4 linked regions of the Homo sapiens genome follow. The protein of the gene in region 2 purifies or fractionates together with the protein of the main gene of each other region. This does not show direct contact. Each region holds a gene or a part of one and is shown on either strand. Other genes may lie near its edges.

Evidence for each region. Proteins that work in one complex are often made in the same cells at the same time.
Region 1: the proteins of TTK (region 2) and TACC2 purify together in Homo sapiens (affinity purification with western blotting; one study listed by BioGRID and IntAct). This does not show direct contact.
Region 3: the proteins of TTK (region 2) and XIRP2 purify together in Homo sapiens (affinity purification with mass spectrometry; one large-scale study listed by BioGRID and IntAct). This does not show direct contact.
Region 4: the proteins of TTK (region 2) and IBTK purify together in Homo sapiens (affinity purification with mass spectrometry, with the first as the bait; one large-scale study listed by BioGRID). This does not show direct contact.

Annotation. Positions count from the first base shown.
Region 1 is NC_000010.11:122,086,663-122,090,162, reverse strand, and holds part of TACC2 (transforming acidic coiled-coil-containing protein 2), read right to left. Parts: coding exon 2,204-3,500; intron 1,686-2,203; coding exon 1,572-1,685; coding exon of another isoform or gene 1,425-1,571; intron 1-1,424. UniProt on the Homo sapiens protein: Plays a role in the microtubule-dependent coupling of the nucleus and the centrosome. Involved in the processes that regulate centrosome-mediated interkinetic nuclear migration (INM) of neural progenitors.
Region 2 is NC_000006.12:80,025,149-80,028,648, reverse strand, and holds part of TTK (dual specificity protein kinase TTK), read right to left. Parts: intron 2,272-3,500; coding exon 2,135-2,271; intron 765-2,134; coding exon 638-764; intron 1-637.
Region 3 is NC_000002.12:167,248,480-167,251,979, reverse strand, and holds part of XIRP2 (xin actin-binding repeat-containing protein 2), read right to left. Parts: coding exon 33-3,500; intron 1-32.
Region 4 is NC_000006.12:82,213,245-82,216,744, forward strand, and holds part of IBTK (inhibitor of Bruton tyrosine kinase), read right to left. Parts: intron 3,007-3,500; coding exon 2,832-3,006; intron 1,586-2,831; coding exon 983-1,585; intron 1-982. UniProt on the Homo sapiens protein: Acts as an inhibitor of BTK tyrosine kinase activity, thereby playing a role in B-cell development. Down-regulates BTK kinase activity, leading to interference with BTK-mediated calcium mobilization and NF-kappa-B-driven transcription.

The DNA.
Region 1 (3,500 bases), on a different chromosome or scaffold from region 2:
CAACAAGTCATGAAATATTTATTGTACTACTATACATCTGGCCCTGCCTTCTCCAAGAAGGTGCTAACATGTTTAAGGACTCTGAAAAAGAAGGCACTGATATGGTCATTTTTGGGGTGGGGAAGACTTTTCCAAGCTAGACAGATATTTCTCCTGCCCCTTAACTGGGAATATAAAAAATACATAACAGCAAAGGCTGCAGGAAATTGTATCCTAAGTCAGTAGCAAAAAAGGGTGTCCAATGCAGATTAAACTTGCATCTGTTTGGCCAGCACATGCCCACATCCACATTGGCTCAGAGCTATGGGAGTCACTACTGCCAGGCGGCAGAGGCAGCTGGGTGTCAGTGGAAGTGTTCAGACTCGAAAAACAGGTGATCGTGCATTCTTTCTGAATGTGCAAAATATGAATCAGATCATTTATAAAATGCCTGCAGCTGTTTGGTAGGGTACACAGGTACTAATTTAAAGTCTGATTCCACCCTACTCATACACACAAGTGTTGTATGCATGTATATGTGTGCACACACAGCACCAGAACAGCCAAAGGCCTAGGGAGGCGGAAAGCTTGTTCACTGTGTGTCTGTGTACGTGCACAATATCACCATTTCCCCAAAAGGATGAAACCTTGAGCAGCAGCTTCTGCATAACACTAGGTGGCATTTCATGTAGAAAAGAACAGGCAGGCACACTGCAAGTGTGAAGGTCACTGTTCGTGGTTACATTTACCCTCCTTGAATCTCGAGATCTCCTGGAGTGTGACCGCTGTTGGTGAGCCATTCCTGCTTCGGAGACTAAATCAGCATTGAACCCATTTGCATCAAGATGTAATGAACTAGATGAATGGGTGCCTAGAGATGATGCGGCGGGTGTGGGGGCTGGGGTATGATATCTAGGGGCTGTAGGGTTTCTTTCTGTGGGGATGAAAATAACCTGAAATTGATTGTAGCCATGGTTACACACTGTGAATATACTACAAGCCACTGAATTGTATGAGTGAATTATGTGGTATATGAATTGCATCTCAATAAAGATTCTTTTCTTTTTTTGAGACAGGGTCTCTGTCACCCAGGGTGGAGTGCAGTGGCACAAACACGGCTCACTGCAACCTTCACCTCCTGGGCTCAAACGATCGATCCTCCCAACTCAGACTTCCAAGTAACTGGGACTACAGACACGTGCCACTGTGCCCGGCTAATCTTTGTATTTTTTCTAAAGATGGGGTTTCACCATGTGGCTGGTCTCAAACTCCTGGGCTCAAGTGATCTTCCTGCCTCGACCTCCCAAAGTGTTGGGATTACAGGCATGAGCCACCGCACCCAGACTGACTTTTTAAATTTAAGGTAATAAACTCAAGTATGAAAGCAACTCATTCAATCCCTTTTCCAACAATGGAGCTTTTAGTCATCCCAGGTACTGCTGTACCTGTACATAAAACGGGAATGGCCATTTGCTTCTTTCTTATGTAGGAACTCATGCTGTATAAGGACTACTCTCCTTTCCAAAACATCCAGTGTGTCTGTATCTAAGGAAGGCATCATGGCCTTCCAAAGACCAATATCTTTCGCTGACCTTTCTGTTCCTTCCGCACCTCTGGTCTCATCTGAAGTGACTTTATCCATGACTCTTGGAGCATCCTTCTTAGGAACCGAAGGTAACATGGATGGGCCAGGCCTGGGGCTCTCTCTGGGATAATAAAAGAAAGCAATTAATAGGATAATGTAGATAGTAAGGCATTTCTCCTCATGTCCTATTGAAAAAGCAGATTTCTCAATTAAAGTTTTAAGTGGCTACTACAAAAAAAAAAATCCCTAGGAAAAAGGGCCCCCTGACTAAATAAATCCAGATTCAAAAGCAGATGTATCTGGACTCCAGAAAAATATATGACTGACTATAACCTATCACTTAATAGTACACAGCCAGCCAGTAAACAGTTGATACTTTTCCAGTGGTTTAAGTTAGATGAATTAAGGAACACAAGAAAAAGAACATAGTCAACAGCTCCCAGCCTCCAACCATGGTTCTCACATTTTTCAGAGCCTCAGGACATCCAGAGGGGGTAAGCAGGTTCATTTAGCAATTAGATATGGAAAACTCAGCTTTTAGAAAACCACTCACCTATGCGACTGACTTCTAAAAATCAGGCTGGGAATCACCTTTGAAACTGACCACACATTCCCGTGGGAATTTTTTCATTTAAGTACCTGTCAGTGTGGAGCTCTTCTGGAGCCAAATGTTGCAGCTTCGGGTCGTGAGTTTCGTCAGGCTCTGGAGGTGAGGAGACGCACACCTTCCCATCCCCAGCTGGAATGGGGCGCTCAGGCCCTGGCTGCTCCTTAGCCTGCTGGGGCCTGGCTGGGCTGTCCCCATGAAGGGCAGCTGTACCCTCCATCCCCGGAGCCTTGTCAGAGCAGGCTGGGTCCTGACAGCTTCCTGGCAGCACCAAGTCACCTGCCACAACGGAGAATGTCCTCGTAGTACCTGCTTCAGGCAGATCACCGGACGCACATGCCTGTGTCTCAGCTGTGCTCAGGGTGATGTCACCCTCTGCTTCCCCAGCAGCGCCTGCCACCTTGCCAGGCTCCAGGGGAGTGTCTGCCACTTCTCCAGTTGGTGGTGCAGGGGTGCTCTGGTTGCCCAGGGCATTTCGCATTTCCAAGATGCCAGCAGTGACTCCGGGTCTCCTTTCACCCCCAAGCGTGTCAAGGGTCCAGGGCTCACTGTTGGCCTCAGGCACAGTCAAAACCTCCCTCTGAGGAGAAGGGGCACACGTGGACCTTGGCACATGTCCTGGAACCCCTGTGTGAGCAAAGTCCCCGGGACCATCTTCTCCATGTGGACTGTCGCAGGCAGATGTTTCCTGGTGCTGCTTTCCAGAAGGAATTCTGTCTTGGGCCACGGCCTCTTCTCCATGGCTATGGGGAGCCACCTGGAAGGCAGCAGCTCTCTCCACAGGGAGCTCCTGAGTAGCTGCTGGTGAAGGAAGACCTGAAGCTAATTCCTGCCTGCTCCTCTCCAGCTGTGAGTAAGCCTGGCCTTCCAGGCCTGGCCAGGCTGCCCCAGGCCCCTCTGGCCTCTCGTCTTCCCTCAGTGTGGGTGGGACACCTGCCATCTCCTTCCCCACACCGGCACCTGGCAAGTTCCGCTCCCAGGTCAGCCCTGCTGGACCCAGAAGCTTGTCTGAAGCTGGATCTTGCAGAGCCAGATGGGAAATCTCAGCCTCTCCAGCCAACTGTTGCTTCTTCTCCACCTGGAGTCGAGCAGGAGGTGCAGGGAGAAGGGTGACATCCACTCCTGGAGGCCCATCTAGAAGCTTCTCTGGGCCCAATGGCCTGGTGAGGTCTTTACCCACTGCACTCCTCCCAGCTCCTGCCTTTTCTCCAGGTGTGGCCAGGGCTCCGAGCACAGGCTTCTCGAAGATCTTGGCGATGTGCTCCCTGAAGTCTGGGAAGCCAGTGAGGGTGGCGATTTGCTCAGAGCTTGTGTCCACACCACCTGATG
Region 2 (3,500 bases):
CAGCTGACAAAACACAACAAAAAGTAACGCTGGCCAGGCGCAGTGGCTCATGCCTGTAACCCCAGAACTTTGGGGGGCTGAGGCGGGCGGATGGTTTGAGGCCAGGAGTTTGAGACCAGCCTGAGCAACATGGTGAAACCCTGTCTCTAGTAAAAATACAAAAATTAGCCAGGTGTGGTGGTGCGTGCCTGTAATCTCAGCTACTCGGGAGGCTAAGGCACGAGAATCGCTTGAACCTGGGAAGCAGAGGTTGTAGTCACCCGAGATCGCGCCACTGCACTCCAGCTTGGGCAATAGAGCGAGACTCTGTCTCAAAAAATAAATAAATAAATAAATAAATAAATAAATAAAAATAAAAAATAAAAGGTAACCTTGATTCATAAGAGAAATTTTATCCAGCTATTCAAACTGGATCCTTTGGCCTAGTTATTAAGAGTAGCTTCGTAAGCTTCTTCAATAACCAACCTCTCAAAGCCACAAGGCACACTCTTATTAGAATATCAGAAAAGTTTTGTCTAGTGGAAATAAGAATGGCCAAGTTCTTAAGACCTTTCTTGATAACTAGATGCTATAAAAATAAAAGCTGTAAAACGGACTGTATCTTAACATATACCATCATATATAAAGCTTATCGAACCTGTAAATTTTGAAGTGGAGTGGCAAGTATTTGATGCTGTTGCTGCTGGAAACAGGCAGGTTGGCCATAAGGTGTTGACAACTGACAAGCAGGTGGAAAGTCATTCTTTACAACTGGAGTTCTAAAACTAGGAAATATATATATATTTTTATTTAAAACATTACAATTTAACAAATAAGTCTGATTCAGTTTCATGTATTTTAGACTGATATAAACTTAAAAGTGTTACATCAAACAGAACCCAAGTTAGTTTTCATGATATAGCTGACACTTATTCCAGATATGCCACCACCGGATATTTAATTTTGGGGAATTCTTTCTGAAAGTAAATATTTGTATGCAGACAAGAAATCTTTGTTTGAAAAGATGGCATTTAAAATACAAAGTGGTTAGGGTTATTTTATATGAATTTAGCAAACATCAGCTTGTGGCCGGCCATAGATTTTGAGTTTTTTTTTAAACAATAATGTTCTATAATGGCTTGCTAGAAATATCAGAAAGCCAATTACATCACAGGAGTTTGGCCTTTGAGCTTAAATCTGTCCAGTATACATTTGTGCTTTGTTTGCCTTTTTGCTATTAATATATCCTCAACACCTAGAACAATGCTTGGCACAAAAGAGCTCCACAAATATTTGTTAACAATAATTAACCTAGTATCACAAGAAATATCTATTATCGCTATTTTAGTTAGCAATCATTCTTTAGAATATTCTACATATAATAAAATGAGGCAATATATAGTAAAACTATATTAAGTAGGTAAGAGGCTGGGTTATAAAATCTTTAAGACCAGTTCTAATTAAGATCAAGGATTACATTATGAAAATGAAACGCAAAAGACAACACGGATTTAAGCTATCCCCTAAGACATTAAAGATATAGCCACCGGTTGATGGTTATAATGTATCGCATCCCTTTATTTCCTTTCTCTGAAATGTCATTCATTTTCTTTTGTAGTATCCCTTGTGTTCCCTATCAGCACACTCATCATCGAACTTCTTCACTTATCCATCATTCCTATTCACTCAAATACTACACCTTTGAATACCTCCAGAACTACATGAACTGTAAAAACCAATCTCTTCCAGAAGCTATCACTTTCCAATTAACACCACTTATGTGAAAAAATTCATCTACTCTTTATCTGCTCTAAGAATGCTAACCTTTAAAATCTCTCTCTTAATAGAGAGATATCTGTATGGCAATACATGATTATCAAGACGTTTTACATCCTTAGAATATTTATAGGTTGTAGGTACAGATTACGATATGACAGAAACTACATGCACAACAATCCTTAAAAATATGCATTATTGCAACCACTTCCCCCTTTCCATTTTATAGATGAAAACACTGATGCTGAAAAAATAATATGAAGATGGAAAGTCTTTAAAGTAAAAGAGCAGGATTTAATCCCAGATTTATTTGGCCCAGAAGCCCATGTTAATTCTATCATACCACCCTGCCAATCAAGCAAGGGGCCAAAGTAATTACCAGCTCATGTAATCATCCAAGGTATTGCTGCTTGGTGTCTTACAAATAGATTTTGGGTCAAACCATTTAGATGTTGATATTGGTGGTGACTGTTTTGAAACTGAAAAGACAGGTTGCTCAAAAGTGGTATGTTTCTGCTAAAACAAAATAAAGAACACCATGATTTAGTTTTTAAATTAGTTGCCTGTTCACTAGTTTTTACAAATATTATAACTTTTAAAATAAAATAATAACATATGATATACAAAGGCATACTAAAAGAGATAGGCATATATATACATTTTAGACTTTCAATAATTTTTTTAGTGTAGTTATTTTACTCCAAATTCTTAAGCCTAGTGCATTCTGCTCAAACTGATGGCAAGTACAGGGAAGGCACACAAAATTACTTAAAACAGAATTTAACATTCTCTTCCATCAGAGCTATTGTAACAAGTATTAAATTCTTATCATCTAAAATAGTATCCTGTGTTTCTGAAAATCAGCCTTTCTTTAATCAATAAAACTCTATTCCCTTCTCCTCAAATGTAGACAAATACTAATTACTTAGCAAAATGTGGAATGACAAATGCCTATCTTGTGTCCTCCATAAGAAGAGACAGAACCTGTAGAAATTCTTTTTCCAAAAGCATTGTTGGGAAAAAAAAAAAAAAAAGAACCTATAGGATTCATCCTATACAAACCCCAAACAATGATGAAGGAACATCCGCTGCAGCAGAAATCAGCAAATTACAGCCTACAGGCTCAGGCTGAATGTGGCCTGCTGCCTGCCTATTTTTGTAAACAAAGTTTTATTAGAATATGGCTATGCCAATTTGTTTACATATTGTCTATGGCTTTTATTTTCATGCTCTAATGGCAGAGGTGAAAAGCTACAACAGAGCCCATCTAGCCTGGAAAGCCTGCTAACCCTTTACATAAAGTTTGCTAACCCCTGCTGTAGCACATCTCAATTAAATAGAGAACCAAGTTTTGCTTGAATACTTTTAGTAACTAAGCACTCACTAGTCTACAGAGGTTCACTTCAATTTCAGGACAGCTTTAGTTATTAGAAAATATTTGCAGATAATTTGGATTATATTGGTTTATCTATTATAATTTCAACACACTGGTCCTCATTACGCACTTGAGAATTACAATGACTAAATCTATCCTACTTTCTACATTTCAGTCTTGGCCAAGAAATTTTTTTTCCAGGATAAATTTTCCCTCTCATTTAAGACTTCGTGTGTCTGTGCTCACGTACAAGCACGCACATATTTTAAGATTAGTGGTAAAGATGTTACTGAGGAACTGCTGTAATAAGATTAATGAACAAGGAAAATGAAAAAGATCACGATCATAGAGTGGAATGTTAGCATCTGCG
Region 3 (3,500 bases), on a different chromosome or scaffold from region 2:
AATCTTCTTTAACACATTGCAAGCTCATTTACCACTTATAAATGCAGATTCCTCTTGGAAGGTGGTTCTCATCTCAGTTGCAGAAGCATCTGCGGTTGCATATCCCAGGCCTTTAAAAACTCTTCCACTCTCTTGCCACGTCTTTTGAAAATTTTTTCTTACTTCTTTAGGTGAATCAGAGATATCTAAAATATGTCCAGCAATGACATCCTCATAGGTTGGTGGGGCATGCTTGAAGTCACAGCCAGATTTGCCAGCTTCTGAGCTATGTGATGAAGAGGTTTTCATCTTCGACTCAACAATTTGACTCTCAAATGCATCCATGCCTGAGAAATGTTCACTTAGAGACCTGGTTTCAGAGCAGATCCTGGGCTGCTTAACAGGAATCTTTTCTCGCAGTTCTCTAGGATGTTTGCAAGAAAAGTCTGTAAAACTCGTGTTTCCTAAAGATGTTAATCCAAATTCCTCCTTACAAAATGTACGACTTTCTTGTTGTATGTTATGGTTTGTTTCTCCCTTTGCATAAACTCTTCTATTTGACTTTGCTTCAGAAACTGGGCCATGCTCAAATTCCCTGAACCATCTGTTTATTTCATTTTCAGGGTCATTCACGAAATTTTCAGCCATTTGAACAGTTCGGTTGGCCGCTTCATATCTCTGTGTGTGCTCTGACAGGCGAGGAGGCACTGCAACCTTGCGGATGATTTCAACTGCATCATAACTTTCAGTGTCGGGCACCATGTGATCAGTGGAATTTAGTCCATCTTTATGAACATAAGTAGCTCTCTTCTCCACTTTCCTGATTTCCTCTTGAGCGTCCACAGATTCTCTGAAGGAACCACTAGCAGCATGATTTATATTTACTGGTATTGTGATTGTAGGTGGAGAGTCCCTACCACGAGTTTCTATCTTAATTTGACGACGAAGTGTTGCAGGAGACATGATGATTTCAGACCTCTTCTCTACAATTGGAACCGGGGTTGCTGCTGGACATGGGATGGCCCCTTTGGATAACTTTGCAGTGGTGTCTTTGAGTCTGACAAGTTGTTCAGAGCGACTCCTGGGTGGAGAAGGGGAAGTGTTTGCTCTGTGAATTTCAGATTTTTGCGACATGGGCCTTCTTGGTGGGGGTTCAACATAACTGTCCTTTTTAGGGGACTGAGAAAGCTCGTTCTTAGTAGGGTTTTCTGTTCGTCGGGCAGTAGATTCTATTGTGATAAAAGTTGGTGACGGTGGGCGTGTTTTTAAAGAGGGAGGAGGAATGTTGCTATCATCAAGTTTAATTTCCTGATGGGTTTTCACGTGACTACGAACAGTTGCTTCATGATGAGCTGCTACTTGGTGCTGTACTGTTTTCTCTTTGGCAATTTTATTTTCTTTCTGTTCACTATTTTTATTATTGCTGACATGAACATTAGATACTTTGGATGATGTTTCATCAAGACTAGTGGGTTTATTTCCCGGTTTTCCTGTTTTGGAGGACATCATGGCTGTCTGAATTATATTTTCATAGGACACAAGCATATCTTCCGCTTGAGTTTTAATATGTGTTATTTCTTCTTTTACTTTTTCTAAATTATTCTCCATGGCAATGTGAACTGCATATTCTCTCTTATCTTCACTTATCAGCCATCCTGGGATAGTATTTAATAGTGTCTGAAATGTTTTAAGGCCACTTTTATTTGGCTCTGCTTCAAACTGTTTCACTCTCGACAAAATCTGTTGCAGTTCTTCACGTTTTCTCAAGAATTCCACTATATTTAAGGCACCTTTTCCATCATCCCGCTGGGATTCTTTCACAGAGGAAAAGAAAGATTTGTTCTGTGTAATCTCTTGCTTTGAATCTTTAGTATTAGAGAAGACTTGTTTCTCTTGTATGCCCTTGACTTCGAGACATTTTTCTTCCTGCAGACTATTATATGGCTGGGGCAATTTTTTATGTTCAGCTTTACTTTCAGCGGTCTGTATTTGTGTTTGCTGAAAATTCTGAGTCTGTGAATCAAGATGTGCATCGATAACCTTTTGCTTGACGACCTTTGGTGCTGATTTATTCTTCAGATGTTCGTGTTTTCTTTCAGTTATTAATCTCTCTTCTTTTCGACCAATCATTGATGGTCCCTGATTTTTTTCTTCACTTCCTGGAAGTTTCCCTCTGTCAGATCCGCTAAATTCTCTTTGCTTCCTGGGAACCATCTTGAGCTTATCTTCCTGGTTCTTCTGTATGGATTCTGTAGGCAATTGTACTGTCACTCTTTTCTCCTTCTTAGGTAACTGATAATGTCTTTCAGCCAGAGATTGCTTATGACTACATTCAGTGCTTGCTTCAGTTTTCTTGGTTTTCAGATATTGTTTTTTGGTAAAGGTTTGAACATCAATCTCAGATTGCTGTTTATGACTTTCATAGCTGTGGTCTGTTTCATTTAATGTATGATCTAGAGTTGGAAGTTTGATGGTTTTAACTTTGAAATTTGGGGAAATTGGTTTGCTTTGGGGCAAGTGCAACTGCTCCAAATACTTCTTCTGTTGTGTTTGTTGGGTACTACATTCTTGGTGACTTTGTTTAATTTCGCAAGCTGATTTGGATTGCATAATGTCCCTTGAGCTTTGTAAAACTTCCTTTTTCATCTTATCTTTGTCTTCTGAAGCTGCTAAAACATGGTGGAGCCTCTTGGCAGCGACTGTTTCTGGCGATGTTGTGGAGAGTTGGTTATCAGAACACACTCCTAGTATCCGAGCATTACTTTGAGAGCCTGGGCTGGGTTGAACCACAGTGCATTCTGAATCAATTCCAGATAGGGAAACCTCCTCATTGGTTTTTTGTAATGGCATTTCCTTTTCCACCTCTGTTATGTGTTGATTTTGGCTTTGAGTTTTAACAATGTTGTAGTAAGAACTCTCCTGTTTCTGTTTTTCAATTTCTTCTTTTTGTTGTCTATATTTTTCTTCAGCAATCATTAAAGGTGTCTTAAATTTTCTCATATAAGGTTTTGGATTTTGTTGTCCTGAACTCTCTGGAAATGAATGAGATTTTATAAGAGGCGCAATCTGTTTTTTCCTGGGTGCTGAAGTTCCTGGAACTGTGTGTGAGAGACAGTTTGCAGAGTCAATAGATAATTGTTTTCTTTCATCAAGACTCTTACTAATAACGTTCTGCTTTGTCTCCGTGTGTTCACTGCTGGTCATCACCATTACTTTTTTCTGATCCTTTGAGGTAGTAATTTTACATTCCATATCTGACAGGGAGGTTGCCAGTTCAACTTTGGGGGAAAAATCGTTCTTATTATCTTTTATATGCTTGGGAAGTTTGGGTTTGGGCAATGTGGGAGGTGGCAACACACCGGTTTTTCCTGTTATGATTTTAGCCTGAGAATTCTGAGAGTTCGAGGCTTCTTTTTGGGAATATTGTTGCATGAAGTCTCCACTGTGCTTTTCCGGAGCAGAGGAGGAAAGGAGATGTGCTGGCTTTTGAGATGGAGTTGGAGGAGGAGGAGGCGGCAGAA
Region 4 (3,500 bases), 2.2 Mb from region 2:
TCTCAAACTCCTGACCTCAGGAGATCTGCCCACCTCAGCCTCCCAAAGTGCTGGGATTACAGGCGTGAGCCACCGCGCCCGGCCCCTTCATTATTTTTAAACAGGAAACACGATACACACCCCTCCTCTCTTCCCACCCTACAACGAAGGTTTAACTGCCACAAGCAACATAAATACCTTAAAAAAAGAAAGAATTTCAAATAATCTGATTCATAATATGATACTATGGTGTTAGGCAATTTACATATGACAAAACCATATCAACAATATGAGGCAAATATTATCTTTCCCATTTCTTATATTGAGAAACTGAAGTAAGAAGGATCGCTTGAGCCCAGGAGTTCGAGAAACTGAGGTAAAAGAAAATTGTCCCAGCCAGGAATAGTAAAGCTAAGAGATATGTATGTCTAACTTGAAAGACCTTTCCAGCATACCACATTGCCTGCCACTCCAGATCCCTGTTACATACACAAACCAGAGTTCAAACCCACCAACAGCTTTCCTATCCATTAATGTAATCCAAGAAGTCCCAGAGATAGCTCTGCCCGCAAATGGAGGAAAGACATATCCATGTACCTCCCCAAAAAAAGGATGGGTAGGGAGAAAGGGAGAGAGAGGAAGAGGAGGGGAAGGAGAAAGAGAAGGGGATGGAACAAGTGGGAGGAGACTTGGGGAGGGGAAAGAAAAGCAAAGCAAGGCAAAAAGGGTGGGATTTTTTTTTTTTTCTTTGAGACACAGTCTCGCTCTGTCGCCCAGGCTGGAATGCAGTGGCGCAATCTCGGCTCACTGCAAGCTCCGCCTCCCGGGTTCAGGCCATTCTCCTGCCTCAGCCTCCTGAGTAGCTGGGACTACAGGCGCCCGCCACCACACCCGGCTAATTTTTTGTATTTTTAGTAGAGATGGGGTTTCACAGTAAGGGTGGGAAATTTTTTAAAGGAGGACTGAATGAGGTACAGGAACAGATATAAAAGAGAAATCATACCTACTACTCAAATTACTGAAGTCGAATTTCTTTGCAACAGTTTGCAACATTCTTACAGGATCATCTTCCCTAATATTTTTTCCTTTTTTACAAGATTTAGGTTTGCTCTTCTGCCTCTCACTAACTGTTTGAGCTTGATTACTTTTGTAAACTTCAAATGCAGACTTCTGGTTATCATCTTCATGGAAATTCACTTTATTCAAATGAGAATTCAGAGTTCCCTGATATTCTTCTGGGTTTTTGTTTAAGTGTATTCTTGGTTTGAAGCCATGAGTTAAAAAGTCACAAGTATCTGTGTATATAAATTGTAAAAGGTATTCAAACATGTCAGGATGAACCTTCTCTACCACAAAGAGATGGCACCCTGCAGAATCTTCATCTTTCTGGTAAATATCTGTAAATTCTGAAGTATTACCATCTGAAAGAAACAATTTCTGAAAAAAATCAGAATGCACTGCCAAAATATATTTATGTGCAGGGAAGAGTCTATTGCCAACTTGAAATGTCACATCATGAATGCTGTCCATTTCATCTGCTTCCCTCAACAGTTTGCCAAACTCTTCAAAAAAGGATGATGAGGACACAGCTGGAATTTCATAAAGGCTAGAAAGAAGACAAAAACAAATTATGCTTCAAAAAATATGAAGGAAATCCTTTTTCATACCTAGCCAATTCTCCTTTAAAATGCAATTTTTTTAACAATATTTAGAAAATTTTAAATTTGGCATTTCCTAAAATACAAGAATATTGCACAAAGTCCTAGATGCTATATCATCCTTTAATTTTTTTCTATTCCTTTTTATATTTATATTCTATTCTTCTCTCAAATTAAAATGATAAGAACTAAGTTGTCCGTATCCCTGGTTCTTACAGTACTGTGGGAATGCAATTACACCTTCCCAACCAACATTTCACCCTTCTCAGTAGGAAGACCAACCCTCCTGTGGTTTGCCTTGGACTGACGAGTTTCTCAGATGAGACTTTCAATGTTAAAACTGGGGCAGGCCTGGGCAAACCAGGATGGATGATGACCCTACTTGCAGAATTTCCTCCCTCTTCAACAGTACCCTTGATGTTTATCTTAATCTGATACCTCTCTGCTTATGTGACTTAGGAGATTTGCATTGCGATTTACAGATGGCGCCACAACACTTATTTTGCCAATTCTCATCATATTCAAGGGTCAGAAATCTTTGCAAACTGCCTAAGAAATATTTATAATACATTTTTCAGAATCTGAGAACCCAGGGTACATCATACAGTATGAAAGACAAATAAGGCAGGGTGCGGTGGCTCATGCCTGTAATCCTAGCACTTTGGGAGGCCGAGGCTGGCGGATCACCTGAGGTCAGGTGGTCAAGACCAGCCTGGCCAACAGGGCAAAACCCCATCTCTACTAAAAATACAAAAATTAGCTGGGTGTGGTGGCGGGCACCTGTAATCCCAACTACTTGGGAGGCTGAGGCAAGAGAACTGCTTCATCCTGGGAGGTGGAGGTTAGAGTGAGCCGAGATTTTGCCACTTAGCCTGGGCAATAGAGCAAGACTCCATCTCAAAAAAAAAAAAAAAAAAAAGAAAGACAATAAACTTTGTGAGTGCATGTATAGATATTTTCAATATTTTCAATAAATGTCAGTTTATAAACCAAAGGAAACATTCATCACTCCAAGTATAACAAATTCTACCTCTGGATTATCTGTAGACATAATCTGTAAACATGATTATGTCTAAGGTCTCTATAGGTCTTGGCAACAGCTCTTCAATTAAATTTGCACCAGCAGCTACTGAAAACAAGAAAATTCAGTGATTGTTCCTTCTAAAAAATGAAATTTAATATATACAAGTATACCTTGTTTTAGGATCTGACTGCAGGATTGCAAAGTTGCATCCACTTGGATCTGTGCTGACACTAACAGCTCTATGTGCAAAGGTAAGTTTCTCAAGTCGAATTCTTTCATACACACTATTTATATCAGAGACATAAGACACATCTGATGAGGAATTGTGAAGGTTTGATAAAATCTCTGTTAAAAAAAAATAAACTACCATTAATCAAGGCTTTACTGAAACTACTAAAATGATTGAGAAGTAAATGGAATAGAAAAGGAGTTAGAAAAATATGGAAATCTTTTTCACATATATTCAGTGTTTTTGAAGAACTACATCCTCTCTTCAACACATTTTCCACTGAATATATTGGCTGTATTATACAGGAAATTTTTGGTGGATGGATTCTCAATTATCCATGATTCCATCTCTTTCAACAAACACATCCTCCATACTGCAACCAAAGTTCCCTTTCTAAAAAGCAAATCTAGTGTCATACTAGCTTTTAAAACTTTTCAACTTATACTTCCTGTTGCCCAAAGGGAAAAAAATTCTTCAACTTGGATTAAAAATATATAAATCTACTGTCTTCATAATCTGCTTGTTTATTTGCTTCCTCCCTTTCTCTTCCCCCTTTCTTGCATGTATTCAGAAAATATGTGCGTAACCAAACTGGGCTACTATGATATCA